Linked DNA regions of Homo sapiens. The protein of the gene in region 1 purifies or fractionates together with the protein of each later gene. This does not show direct contact. Each region holds a gene or a part of one and is shown on either strand. Other genes may lie near its edges.

Region 1 (4,684 bases):
GGAATGTGGTAAGGATTGGGTGGAAAGGAAAAGCAGGTGCCAAAATCTTTGATGAATGAAAAGTTAGTAAATGACCACAGTAGGTATGTGGAATAGCTAAATAATATGAACTTCAAAGAAGGAAGAGTCTTCTATAGGAGGATAAGCAACAAGGGGAATTGAGAGGGGTATTATTTCTAGCTTAGGACTAAGGAGTTCTTGAACCATGAGAGAATAATGGCCACCTCTTAAGAAGACTTACAGGGAAGGATTTTTATCAGGGGGAGGCAGATTTCAATTTAAACCAAGAAGTGGGTTGAGGGGAATATTCCAAAGAGCATAAGAGATCTCATGTTTTCCAGGAGGGTCAATATTAAGTGAGGGTACAGCTAAGATTTGCTACCATAATCAGATCCTTCCATCTTTTCCTGACTCTTTGCTTAACATATGCCCATTTATTTATCGTTTTTCTCATTGTGAATAACCAAAGGAAATGGCAATGTGTAATTCGAATATTAGGATATAAACTTTGGGAGAAAACTGGATATTAAAGTCTATTAAAATTATTTTAAAGTCCAACCCAAGATATAGCATTACAATAGCGAGTTGTTTCCAGTAATCAATAGAAAATAAGTGGAGGTGCATAATGACCCAGAGAGAATCTTCCCCAGGAACTGAGGTCCAGAGATGTATGACTGGATATTTTAACCTACTGGATCATAAGATTAGAAACATTTAATTGTATATTGTTCCTTTTAAGTAGACTGGTTACTATTCTCCAAGACCTTTGTTATGTCTTTAATGGATGAGATACTTGCTATTTTACTTGCTCATGTTGTATGAAAAATTGACATAGGTGGAAGGCCCATGCTACCCTCAGTACAGGTAAACCTGTAGTAGTAATACCATGGTTACAACAATGATGACAATAATTGCCATAGCACTGTAGAAAGGCACAATACAGACATCTAAATATAAAGTAATGAGAGTAGGGTAGTGACTTTAAAAAATATGAAGTGACCTATTGCTATCAATATACTTACAAGGAAGAAATCCTTGTAAAATACAGAAGTAGCCAAAGAGATAGAAGACATAATAGAAACATATTTCTTAACAATTTTTAACTCTTGGTTACCATTTGATTGTGATAACCAAGGAGGGGGCACAATCCAGCAAACTAAACATCTGTAGATAACAAAAAACTAAAAATCTCTTGTATTTACAAAGGGCCAGAAAACCTACAGAACATGCTTCCCTCTCAAGGGATTCTAATCCCAATTAAATGGTTCATATAGTTATAGTGAAGAGTTTGCATTTTAAATATTTTTGACAGTACTTTAATCTAATTTTTAAATTTTTCTCATTTTATGTAAATAACATGTTTTAATTTATTTTTACTCAGCCTTAGGATGAAGGATTTCCTATCATTTTATGAAGAAAATCAATAATTTCATTGACAGAAACTAGCTATGTTTTGTCAAGTAAGGTTTACCAAATATTCTATGTTTTATGGCTTGTGGTATACCTTTAGGTTCACCTACTTCCTATAGGGACGCATATGGTGGCACTTACCGGGTCTGCCTAGCTGCTCTCTATCATGTCTTAATATTGGTGACTAAGCACTTTTCTGTAAAATGTAACCAAAATGTTGAGATGTTTTTCTTTTCTCAGTACTTCTAAAGACAAATTGACATAGAGGGGAAAAAGAGACTCACAAGTTTTTGGCAGATAAATTTTTTATCTCCAAAAGTCATAAGTACAAAATGGAGTGACAAAGATTTTCACATTTTGTGCATTTCTTTGGTCACCTTTCAGCAGTTAGATAAATTACTCTTCACTTATGATTTTTGTGTGAACCTCCCTGCTCTTCACCCTCAGCTTGTTGACCTGGGACTCAGCAATGTCAGCCCGTTCCTCGGCCTCCTCCAGCTCGTGCTGGATCCTGCGGAATTTGGAGAGGTTGACGTTGGATTGTTCCTCCTGTGAATGGAAATCCATTTATGAGGGAAGAAAGTTCAGAATTTTTCCATTCTTAGGTCAGTGGATCTTGAATTTCCTTTTTACTTAAAAATGATTCACTCTAGCAGATATTTTAAGAAACCTAGAGAAATGCTCTTGAATTTTTATTTTTTTTTATTTTTGCATTAGCTTCTTGAACTCATAGATAACAAGGAAGGACAGGTGACCTTTGTATCTGAACTTTTAGAACAGCAGAACATCCTAGAGCTACTACTAAATATGCCAGGTGTCCAGCTTTGTTTTTTTTTTTGTTTGTTTGTTTGTTTTTTTCAGAATCCTGAGAATGGAACCAAACCTTTTAAGAGTGCAAGTATGCAATCTATACCAAACCAAACCATTAAGCTTGAATATAAGTTATTGCCATGTGAGTATAAATTATTGCCACTTAAGTTTAGAAATTAAGCAAGAAGTTTGTTTCCTAAAATAGTCTGAGCTGTCTCTGATTATACTTAAATATATAGCAGAGAATTTGAGCAGGTCAGTTCTAGTTTAGTCTCTGGTAATCATTCTTATTTAAAAGTCTCAGTAAGAACCTCCAAAATGTGGCATTCAAATTTAGAACAGACATAAAGCTTAGAATCATTAAATAGTATAGCTTGAGAAAAAACCTCAGCTTTTCCTCTTACAGATGAGGAAAGTAGGAACTGGAGAAAGATTAAGCAATTTGTCCGAGGTATGGACAGTAGCGTGTGTGTGTGTCCGTGCACACAAGTGTGTTTGTTTTCTCTCCCTCCCTCATTCCCCTCCATTCCCATCTTTCTCTCTCTCTTACCTTAGATGTCAGGGGTAAAATAAAAACCATCAATGAACAGAGGAACTCATTTGTGATATGTAACTATGAATATTTATATGTAGGAAGTTGAAACTATTTGATTATTAATCCAGATGAATCATGGGATACGGAAATGAGATAAAGTGGAGTGTTAAGAATCTACTGATTTGAACATAACCAAGACCTTCTGAGTTTCAGAATCTTATATTTAACTATTTACTTGACATGTTCACTTGTGTATATATGGTATTATGTATCTAAAACAGAATTCCTGTTTCTTTCTTGCCCTGCAATTCTGTTCTTCCCTTTGTTCCCCACTTAAGTGTTACATCATCCACTTGGTTACTCAAACCATAAACTTGATAAATTACTCTTAATTGCCTTTCTTTCATCTCCCAAGTGCAACCTATTAGCAATCTTGTAGTTTCTACCTCCAAAATATGTCCTGAATTTCTCCACTTCTCTCTGCTCCACTCTCTTATCCAAGCCACAGAACCGACCTGAAAAGCTTCCTAACATGTCTCTCTGCACCCACTTGTGTTACCCAGTAACCGATTCTTTACATAGTATCCCAAATGCTCTTTTTAAAAAATATAGATCAGGTAGTGACTGACCCACATTAAAACCCTCCCTGGCTTCCCAGTACCTTATTGTTCTTACCATGGCCTGGAAGACCCTATGAGCTGCCTCCTGCCTGGCTCTCCAGTCCCAGTTGTGGTGCTTTCCTCCTTTTTTTGTCTGCTTCTTGAGCCAGACTCTTTCCCACTCAAAAGCTTTGCATTTGCTCTTCCCCATCTCTAGAACATCTTCTGCTGGCTTGTCAGGTGGTTGGTTTTACCTCAGCCTTGGACCTCCATGTAGCCATTTGTTTTCTTTTGATCCTTCCTCATTTTACTCATCTTTTCTTTTGTCACTTTAACTAAACTGGCCTGGTCATGTCTGAGAAAAATCACCCCAAGGGGTTGTGAACTCACCGCTTCTTCAGCTTGTCTCTTGTAGGATTTCACCTTTGCTTGCAGTTTGTCCACCAGGTCCTGGAGCCTGAGAATATTCTTGCGGTCTTCCTCAGTCTGAAATAATGTTTTCAAGAGTAAGTTTCTTGAAAGTACAAATATTACATTTTGTCATACATATGACTTTTAATCCCATGTGGACTAAAGTGAAAACCTAGACAGGCCATTTTCCTTACTTGGTAAGTGAGTTCCTTCACTTTTCTCTCATGTTTGCGTAGACCCTTGACAGCTTCAACATTGCGCTTCTGTTCACTTTCAACTTCACCTTCAAGTTCACGAACCTACAAGAAGATGGACATTTTAAGGACATTCATTTGACGAATTTCTACTTCTTCACATGACCCACATACTTCTTCTACTCTGCTTTATATGTAGTTTTTAATGCCCTAGTTCAGTTTTCCTTATTATGAGCTTTTGGGCATGAGGGAATAGCTCTCCCTCATCTCAGTATGCCCCACATCATCTAGCAGTGCTAGGTATTCAGAATCGTGTGTTGGATTGGAATGAGATAGAAATACATGCTGATTAGGAGACCCACCCTGGCCTCCAGTTTCTGGATCTGCTTCTTCCCACCCTTCAGGGCCAGCTGCTCAGCCTCATCCAGACGATGCTGCAGGTCCTTCACCGTCTGTTCCAGGTTCTTCTTCATCCGCTCCAGATGGGCGCTGGTGTCCTGTTCCTTCTTCAGCTCCTCAGCCATCATGGCAGCCTAATTAGCAGTAAAACAGAATGGGTTAAGACAGCTAAGACAGCACATTAAGATTTAAGTTTGACCACCACTGTGTTACCCTTCACTCACATCAGTGATGGCCTTCTTGGCCTTCTCTTCTGCATTGCGGGCTTCCTGGATGATGTCTTCCATCTCTCCCTGGATTTGGGAAATGTCTGTCTCCAGCTTCTT
Region 2 (4,488 bases), on another chromosome or scaffold:
ATTTCACATCTACCTACTTCACTCAAATAGATCTAAGACCACAATAAAGAAATTCTGCAAATGGAAAACGTGACAGAGGAAAAGCAGTCCTTAATGTTGAGCCCACTTGAGCAGGGTGAAATAACTCTTAGATATACAGATATACTCACTGCGAGGACAGTAATCCTCATCACCAGAGACTGTGTGGTCTTTGCAGTGATGGTTGAATCGGTAGTCAATGCTGTCATGTACCCAGCCTTTTTCAATGAATAATCCTGGAACTTCATCTGAGAAGAGCCAGTATCTACAAATCACAACCAGTATTAATAAGACAGTGAATAGATCAGGATTGCAGGATGATTTTACTGCTGGAGAAGATAATACAGAGTATCACTGAGCATTCAAAACCACAGTTTACAGAATTCTTCCTCTTCAGAACTCTAGACAGATAAAAATTGCAAGGTAAATCAAAGTATACGAGAAATGTTGAAACTGGAGACTAGCTTAATGTTCGTAATTTGTATAATTTCTTTCTTTTTTAAATTGAAATGGGGTCTCGCTATGTTGGCCGGGCTGGTCTTGAACTCCTGGCCTCAAGCAATCCTCTCGACTCAGCCTCCCAAAGTGTAGGATTACAGGTGTGAACCACCACGCCCAGCCCTAATTTGTGTAACTACTAATATTTCTCCTTTAGGTTTCACAAAATGTATGTATTTAAAACCTACTGCCATTTTTAAAGACTTGGATTACATTTCACCTATCACCATCATGTAAGCTTCCTACTTGTGGTATATGCAAGGGCAGGAATATGTCTTACTTAACTTTGCAACTCTAGCATTTGGCAGTTAATATTCAATAATCATCAACAATTCTGTTTCCAAAAAGAATTGGAAAACTGAAGAGAGAAGCTTGTCTATTCTTGTACTTTAGAAAATTTTCCTAACTAATAGCAATGTAAATAGTCCTAAAGAAAACAAAAATTTGGTTTAGGAACTGACCTATTATGGTTTCGATCTGTGCCAATAGGAGTCCTGCGCATGACTAGTTTGGCCTTGGCAATCCCTTCCTGGAAAGCTTTCTCAGCAGCTGCTTTGTGCTTCCGTATTCGTTCTTCTTCAGCTTGGCGTTCCAGTTTCACTGTTAAAAATAAAAAGACTCAAATCAGATATTTTCCTAGTAAATCCCACTCTTACAAATTAAATAAAATATGGAGTAAAAAGTGCCTAGTATACAGTAGTTATCAAATCTTAGTTTGCTTTCTCTAATTCTAATCTGTTACAAGAAATTACATGTAAGGCAGCAACATCTAGTCCTCCTACACTCCTTGAATTTGTGGTGACATCTCATCCCTCAACTCAATGCAAAATCTTTTATCTCCAAAATATCACTTCTTTTTGTTTTTGTTTTGAGGCAGAGTCTTGCTCTGTCACCCAGGGTGGAGTGCAGTGGTGCGATCTCGGCTCACTGCAACCTCTGCCTCCTGGGTTCAAGCAATTCTCCCGCCTCAGCCTCCTGTGTCGCTGGACTACAGGCACACACCACCGTGTCCAGCTAATTTTTACATTTTTAGTAGAGACGGGGTTTCCCCATGTTGTCCAGGCTGGTCTCGAACTCCTGACCTCAACTGATCCACCCGTCTCGGCCCCTCAAAGTGCTGGGATTATAGGCGTGAGCCACCACACCCAGCCAAAATATCACTTCTTAATATATTTTAAACAATCCTGAAGAAACAGTTAACAGTCCATAAATAGGACTAACTGAAACATCTTCTGACAGGTGCACCTACAGGATCCTCAAAAAGATCACGATAAATCAAACTAGTAAAATAACTATTTCAAAATAAAACATATTTCAGTCCTGAGGAATCTGACAGTAATTTGGCTTAATAGCCCTGATGACAAGAAAACAAACCTGAAAAGCAACAGCAGGGACGCACTTGTGGATAATAATTATTTTACATTGAACACCTATTTTTCTAATTATTCTGCAAGTTACTGTTAATGATAAAAATTTTATTTCTGATCATTCATTAATTAGGTTTATTCAGTTAGAAATTTCCCTCAACAAAAGCAGCCCGCTAATTTTGTTAAGTTTTTCCATAATTGTCACAAACCTTGACACCATAGGGTACATGGCAATGCTATTTACAATGTCACAATTTTTAAGAAGTGTTTATTATTTTTTTAGAGATAGGGTCTTACTATGTTTGCCCAAGCTGGTCTCAAACTTCTGGGCTCAAGCGATCCTCCTGCCTCGGCCTCTCAAAATGCTGGGATTAGAGATGTGAGCCACTGCACTCAGCCCCAATAATTTTTAACCCTGATTGTCTATTGACAATAACATCTACAATAAGATGTAAATCTGGAAAATGCATCTGTCTAAAGATGTTACTTTAAAAACTTAAGATAAATTCCATTTATTTAAAACATGGAATTTGTTACCTTTGATAAACAGTTTTCTAGCCCAAGTGAAACTGTGTATTTGTAACAATGGTTATAGTAGAAAATAGCACAAAGGTAAATGATTAAAAAAAAAAAAAAGCGAGAGAGTGAGTGATGGCCCAATTACAATCAAGGAAAAGTTCAGTCTCCCAAGACTACAAACAAACATAAACCAACTTAGGACAAGTCACCAAAGGAAGACCAAATTCTGTCTCAGAGGTTACAGCACTGAACTAGTTATCCAAAGACCTGAACTCTAATCCAAATACTGATCTTGGTAAAACACTAATATTCTGTCTCTTGTTTCCATACAAATAACAGAGTATCATCTTCTTTTCCTTCTCTTAAGATAAATATAAAACACAGTGGAGCAGTCCAAAAATGCAAGAAGAAATTATTACGTTTCAGATAAAATAGAGCTGAAGGTTTTAACCTACATTCTGCTTCATCTGGAACACAGTTATACTTTTTTTTTTTTTCTTTTTTTTGAGACAGAGTTTCTCTCGTGTTGTCCAGGCTGGAGTGCAATGGTATGATCTCGCCTCACCGCAACCTCCGCCTGCCGGGTTCAAGTGATTCTCCTGCCTCAGTCTACCGAGTAGCTGGGATTACAGGCATGTGTCACCACGCCCGGCTAATTTTGTATTTTTAGTAGAGACAAGGTTTCTTCATGTTGGTCAGGCTGGTCTTGAACTCCCAACCTCAGGTGATCCGCCCACCTCAGCCTCCCCAAGTGCTGGGATTGTAGGTGTTGAGCCACTGCGCCCGGCCGCAGTTATACTTTCTTGATAGGTATTGTTTTGTTTTGAGACGGAGTCTCACCCTGTCACCCAGTCTGGAGTGCAACGGCATGATCTCGGCTCACTGCAACCTCTGCCTCCCAGGTTCAAGCGATTCTCCTGCCGCAGCCTCCCAAGTAGCTGGGATTACAGGCGTGTGCCACCACAGCCAGCTAATTTATTTATTTATTTATTTATTTATTTATTTTGAGATGGAGTCTCGCTCTATCATCAGGCTGGAGTGCAGTGGTGTGATCTCGGCTCTCTGCAACCTCCAACTCCCTGGTTCAAGCGATTATCCTGTCTCAGCTTCCCGAGTAGCTGGAATTATAGGCCGAGTAGCTGGAATTACAGGCACCACCACACCCAGCTGATCTTTTTTTTTTTTTAAAAAAGACAAGAGTCTCGCTCTGTCCCCCAGGCTGGAGTACGGTGGCCGATCTTGGCTCACTGCAACCTCAGACTCCCTGGTTCAAGCAATTCTCCTGCCTCAGCATCCTGAGTAGCTGGGATTACAGGCATGCGCCACCATGCCAGGCTAATTTTTGTATTTTTAGTAGAGACAGGGTTTCACCGTGTTGGCCAGAATGGTCTTGATCTCCTGACCTCGTGATCTGCCTGCCTCAGCCTCCCGAAGTGTAGGATTACAGGCTGTGAGCCACCGAGCCTGGCCTGTTCATATGTCTTTAAAATGTTAATACAATGGCCAGGGGCGGTGGCTCATGCCTTTAATCCCAGCAATTTGGCAAGTTGAGGCAGGCAGTTCATTTGAGGTCAGAGTTTTGGGACCAGCCTAACCAACATGGTGAATCCCCATCTCTACTAAAAATACAAAAATTAGCTGAGTGTGGTAGCAGATGCCTTGTTATCCCAGCTACTCAGGAGGCTGAGGCACGAGAATAGCTTGAACCTGGGAGGTGGAGGTTGCAGTGAGCCAGATCGCACCATTGCACTCCAGCCTGAGCGACAGAGCGACGCTCTGTATCCAAAAAAATAAATAAAATGGAAAGTACACATTACATATGTATACTCAGGCACAGTATGCATACATATGCAAAAATATTTCAATGGCCTTAAGTAGTGTAAACTAAAATTTGTTTTAAAAGGAATATACATTTTCTAATGAAAGAACTATTCAAGCCGGGGTTTGGTGGCTCAGGCCTGTAATCCCAGCACTTTAGGAGGCTGAAGCAGGAAGATTGCTTGAGTTTAGGGGTTCAATACCAGCCTCCACAAATAATAAAAAGATTAGCCAGGCGTGCTGACACATGCCTGTAAGTCCCAGCTGC
Region 3 (4,488 bases), on another chromosome or scaffold:
AGAAGTCTCTTACTGTGCCTAATTTCTAAATTAAACTTTATCATAGGTATGTATGTACAAGAAAAAACACAGTATATATAGGATTCGGTACTATTTGCAGTTTCAGGCACCCACTGGAGGTCTTGAATCATATCCTCACTGACAAGGGGGACTAGTGTATCTCCTGATTGAACTTTCTTAGAGAAAACACCTTATGTGAAAACTACATAAGGAAATTAATCCTTCAAGGAGTCAAAAAGCCCTATTTCCTTTAAGACCCTCTAAATATGTTAGCTCTTCCCGAGTTCCTGAGCAACTACAGAGCTCTCTGCTTTCAGGCACTCCTCCCAGTCAGCTCTGAGTGTGTGAACAGTGAGTCCCTCAACAAGTTTACAGGTAAGCAGAAGTCACAGGGAATCAGCACGGAAAAAAAAATGCACTTTTCTGTCCCTAGCAACCCAGGTTCTAAGTTATATGATATGAGAGTAGTCTGTTCCTGCTTACTGCTGTTCTGGGGAAAGACAGCCAGGACTGACTACAAAGGGATCATTTTTCTCTCATGCCAGCTCCTAGAACTGCTGTGACAGCACCCACGTGGACTCAGGATTAGAGATGGTGAAGTCAGAGCAGGAAGAATGAAACGGGGCAGAAGCCACAGGAAGCCACCAGTGATCCGGCCTTCCATTTGGGGAAGCCACAGTGATCTGGCCTTCTACCTGGAGAAGTGACCAGTGATCTGGCCTTCTACCTGGAGAAGCCACCAGTGATCTGGCCTCCTACCTGGAGAAGCCACCAGTGATCTGAACTTCTACCTGGAGAAGCCACCAGTGATCTGGCCTTCCACCTGGAGAAGCTGGCCTTCCACCTGGAGAAGTGACCAGTGATCTGGCCTTCTACCTGGAGAAGCCACCAGTGATCTGAACTTCTACCTGGAGAAGCCACCAGTGATCTGAACTTCTATCTGGAGAAGCCACCAGTGATCTGAACTTCTACCTGGAGAAGCCACCAGTGATCTGGTCTTCCACCTGGAGAAGCTGGCCTTCCACCTGGAGAAGTGACCAGAGATCTGGCCTTCTACCTGGAGAAGTGACCAGTGATCTGACCTTCTACCTGGAGAAGCCACCAGTGATCTGACCTTCTACCTGGAGAAGCTGGCCTTCCACCTGGAGAAGCGACCAGTGATCTGGCCTTCCACCTGAAGAAGCTGGCCTTCCACCTGGAGAAGTGACCAGTGATCTGGCCTTCCACCTGGGAGTGCCACCAGTGACCTGGTCTTCCACCTGGAGAAGCCACCAGGGATCTGGCCTTTCACCTGGAGAAGCCACCAGTGACCTCGTCTTCCACCTGGGATCTGCTCCAATTCTACCGAGTGTCTGTATAGAGAAATTTCACCTCTGATTACCTGCCAGCAGCAGATGTTAGATAAATCATGTAACATGCTGTAGCTGCTCCAGTTGCTAAGGTGAAAGACTGTCAGGGGCTAAAGAAGCCATGTCCAACCCTTTCACTGCAACAAGTGTTTTGCTTATCCACAGTGGTGAATACCAAAAACATTATGCACAGGACCTTTTTATTAGCTTGTCAACTGTCATTAGTGCTAGTGTATTTTATGTGTGGCCCAAGAGTTTCTGGCCCAGGGACACCAAAAGGTTGGACACCCCTGGGCTAAACCTTCTACAGTGGCTTGGCCAGGGACAGAGCCTCACAAAACTGTGCCACAATATTTTGTTATCAGCTTCAAGGTCAAGGCTAATATATTGTTAAGGGAGGATCTGGGCTTGGCCTTCAGGGCTGGGAACCAGGGCGGTTCTGAGGCCACCCTTCAGGGCTCTCTGCAGCAGTGAAGCGATCCTCCGGAACCCCCACCCCACCCCGTTCCTTGGTGTCGGCCCCACACTTCTACTCACAGGGAACAGCCCTGAGCATAGCAGACCCCCTAAAGGGTACCCATGCCTTACGGGGACTATCTGATCATGAACACACTGAATAAAATACCTGGCAATGGTCTTCTGCCCTGAGAACTCTGCAGTCTGTCCTCATCTGGGGGTTTCACTGCTATGTACTTGTTTGCTTTCTCAAAACTCTGTCGGCGTGGCCAACCAAGGAAACCGCTGTCACGTCCATTTCTCGAGAGGCAGCCCCCTGACGCCCCTCGCCACAGGGAGACCATGAGGTCACTGGGCACCTGCCTTCTTGACCCATTTTAAGTCTAGTTTTCAAGCCAACATCCTGCCCCAGGATCAGCATCATGAATAATCACTGTTGTCCTCTGTGACCCTGTGGAGAAATCTCTCATGACCAACCTGAGAGCGCCTGGCTCCTGTCAGAGTCTAGGGACCATCAACCACAGCTGCAGCTACGGGGGGGTGGCAGCTGGAAATCACGTAAACAGGGTTATATTCTGATCCCTGGCTTCCTTCAGATGGGTCTTGTGGCCTGGTGACTCTTTCAGACACACTGCATACCTAGTTACCATAATATCAAGAATCATAACTTAAAAGCATGTTGGTATTTTGATCATCTCATCTTAGAATAAGCCTCAACTGACCCCTGGTCCTGCTCTCTCATGATTGGCCACGCTGGCCGATGATATTCTGGAGAGACAGACCCTGGCTTATATCCAATTAAGAATTAAGTGAGGACTGGGGAAGAACAAGGATGGGTCAGTGCTTGGAATTAGACATTTCTAAGGGCGCTTTTGCTGAGGTTTTGGGGTTTGTTTTTTTGTTCTTTTGCTATTGTTTTTCATTTGCTTTTTTAAAGCCCACCACAGACAACTCCTTTAAAACTTTTCCAGGCTAAGATTCCTCCAGCCTCGCTCTCTGGCAGGGAATGCTGCAGCCTTGGTCTCCTAACAGCCCATATGTCAGGGGATCCCAAACAGTGCCCCAAGGAAGCCTGGGGTGTCTGAGAGCTGTCCCTTGGCCCACCGCAGTGTAGGAGAGGGGCCACAGGGCCAGGTTCCCTGACTGTCACCCCAGACTTGGTGAGCTCATCCTTCCCAAGACGACTGTCGAAGACGCGGGTCTGCTTCTTACTGTAACACCCAATGGCCAACACAGCACCGTGGGCACACCTGCTGCCTCATCTCCACGTTCTGAGCTATTGTTATTCTGAAGGATAATCTGAGAGGTACATAGTCCATTCACACCTCTAAGTCTCCTAAATTCTATCACTGGATCCAAAAGTCCCAGGGGAGTGCTCCCTGTCTGCTCAGCATTCCTTCAGTATTCACTCACAAGACTGTTCACCCTCTGAACTTGCACCGCGAGCCATTAGAAGACACGGCGGGAAGAAACGCGCATCATTATCCACTGTAGGGATGGGTGAAGGAGGTATTCCTAGTGAGGGTCTAAAGAAGAAATTTCTCTCAGGTCTCAGTGTCAGAAAAAGCTGGGCCTCTTCGGAAAACCCACTGGCCTTAATCATATGTCCCAGGGGCCCTGTGTCTGCTGAGCAGCTCAGAGCCACGAGGGGCCTCTCCCACAGCTAGGTGCGACCACAGAACTGTGTGCACGGGCTCTGTCCTCATCTGACCCTGCTGCGCTCTTCTGCCGCCCTGACTTCTCCTCACCCAGATTCCTTCAGCTACTTCATCCGTGTATATTGGATATACTTTCCTGCCTGTTTCAAATTTTCCACACTAAAAGGCAAGCAGGCAGGAGGGGGCAGGGGTGTGGGTTTCTAAGGACAGACAAATAGGAGAGCTGAAGCCCAGCTGCCTGATCTTCAGGCAAAATACAGTTAATTGTTCAACGAGTTTATGAAAGGATGCTGGGTTCTCATTTTGAATTCCTTTCTTCCTTCAGTAATTGAAGGACAAACTTCAACAGCCTAAACATCCCTGTGATGGGCAGCAAACATCCCACTGCATTCAGCAGGCAGTTGCTGTGTTAAAGACACTGAGCTACAGACGCGAAGAAAACATCACGGTGAGCCCTGCGGAGCGGACTGCAGCCCCGGGCACTAGAGCTCACTGCAGACTACAGCCCGGACACTGGGGCTCACTACAGACTACAGCCCGGGCACTAGAGCTCACTACAGACTGCAGCCCCGGGCACTAGAGCTCACTACAGACTACAGCCCGGACACTGGGGCTCACTGCAGACTACAGCCCGGACACTGGGGCTCACTGCAGACTACAGCCCGGGCACTAGAGCTCACTGCAGACTACAGCCCGGGCACTAGAGCTCACTGCAGACTGCAGCCCGGACACTGGGGCTCACTGCAGACTACAGCCCAGGCACTAGAGCTCACTACAGACTACAGCCCGGGCACTAGAGCTCACTGCAGACTACAGCCCGGGCGCTGGGGCTCACTACAGACTGCAGCCCAGGCACTAGAGCTCACTGCAGACTACAGCCCAGACACTGGGGCTCACTGCAGACTACAGCCCAGGCACTAGAGCTCACTACAGACTACAGCCCCGGGCACTAGAGCTCACTGCAGACTACAGCCCCGGGCGCTAGAACTCACTGCAGACTACAGCCCGGGTGCTGGGGCTCACTG

Evidence for each region. Proteins that work in one complex are often made in the same cells at the same time.
Region 2: the proteins of MYH1 (region 1) and BAZ1B purify together in Homo sapiens (co-immunoprecipitation; one study listed by IntAct). This does not show direct contact.
Region 3: the proteins of MYH1 (region 1) and ACTR3B purify together in Homo sapiens (co-immunoprecipitation; one large-scale study listed by IntAct). This does not show direct contact.

The regions. Positions count from the first base shown.
Region 1 is NC_000017.11:10,490,610-10,495,293, forward strand, and holds the end of MYH1 (myosin-1), read right to left. Parts: coding exon 4,583-4,684; intron 4,493-4,582; coding exon 4,322-4,492; intron 4,065-4,321; coding exon 3,960-4,064; intron 3,841-3,959; coding exon 3,745-3,840; intron 1,960-3,744; coding exon 1,807-1,959; 3' UTR 1,698-1,806; downstream 1-1,697. UniProt on the Homo sapiens protein: Required for normal hearing. It plays a role in cochlear amplification of auditory stimuli, likely through the positive regulation of prestin (SLC26A5) activity and outer hair cell (OHC) electromotility.
Region 2 is NC_000007.14:73,469,368-73,473,855, forward strand, and holds part of BAZ1B (tyrosine-protein kinase BAZ1B), read right to left. Parts: intron 1,117-4,488; coding exon 978-1,116; intron 284-977; coding exon 150-283; intron 1-149. UniProt on the Homo sapiens protein: Atypical tyrosine-protein kinase that plays a central role in chromatin remodeling and acts as a transcription regulator. Involved in DNA damage response by phosphorylating 'Tyr-142' of histone H2AX (H2AXY142ph).
Region 3 is NC_000007.14:152,846,690-152,851,177, reverse strand, and holds part of ACTR3B (actin-related protein 3B), read right to left. Parts: intron 1-4,488. UniProt on the Homo sapiens protein: Plays a role in the organization of the actin cytoskeleton.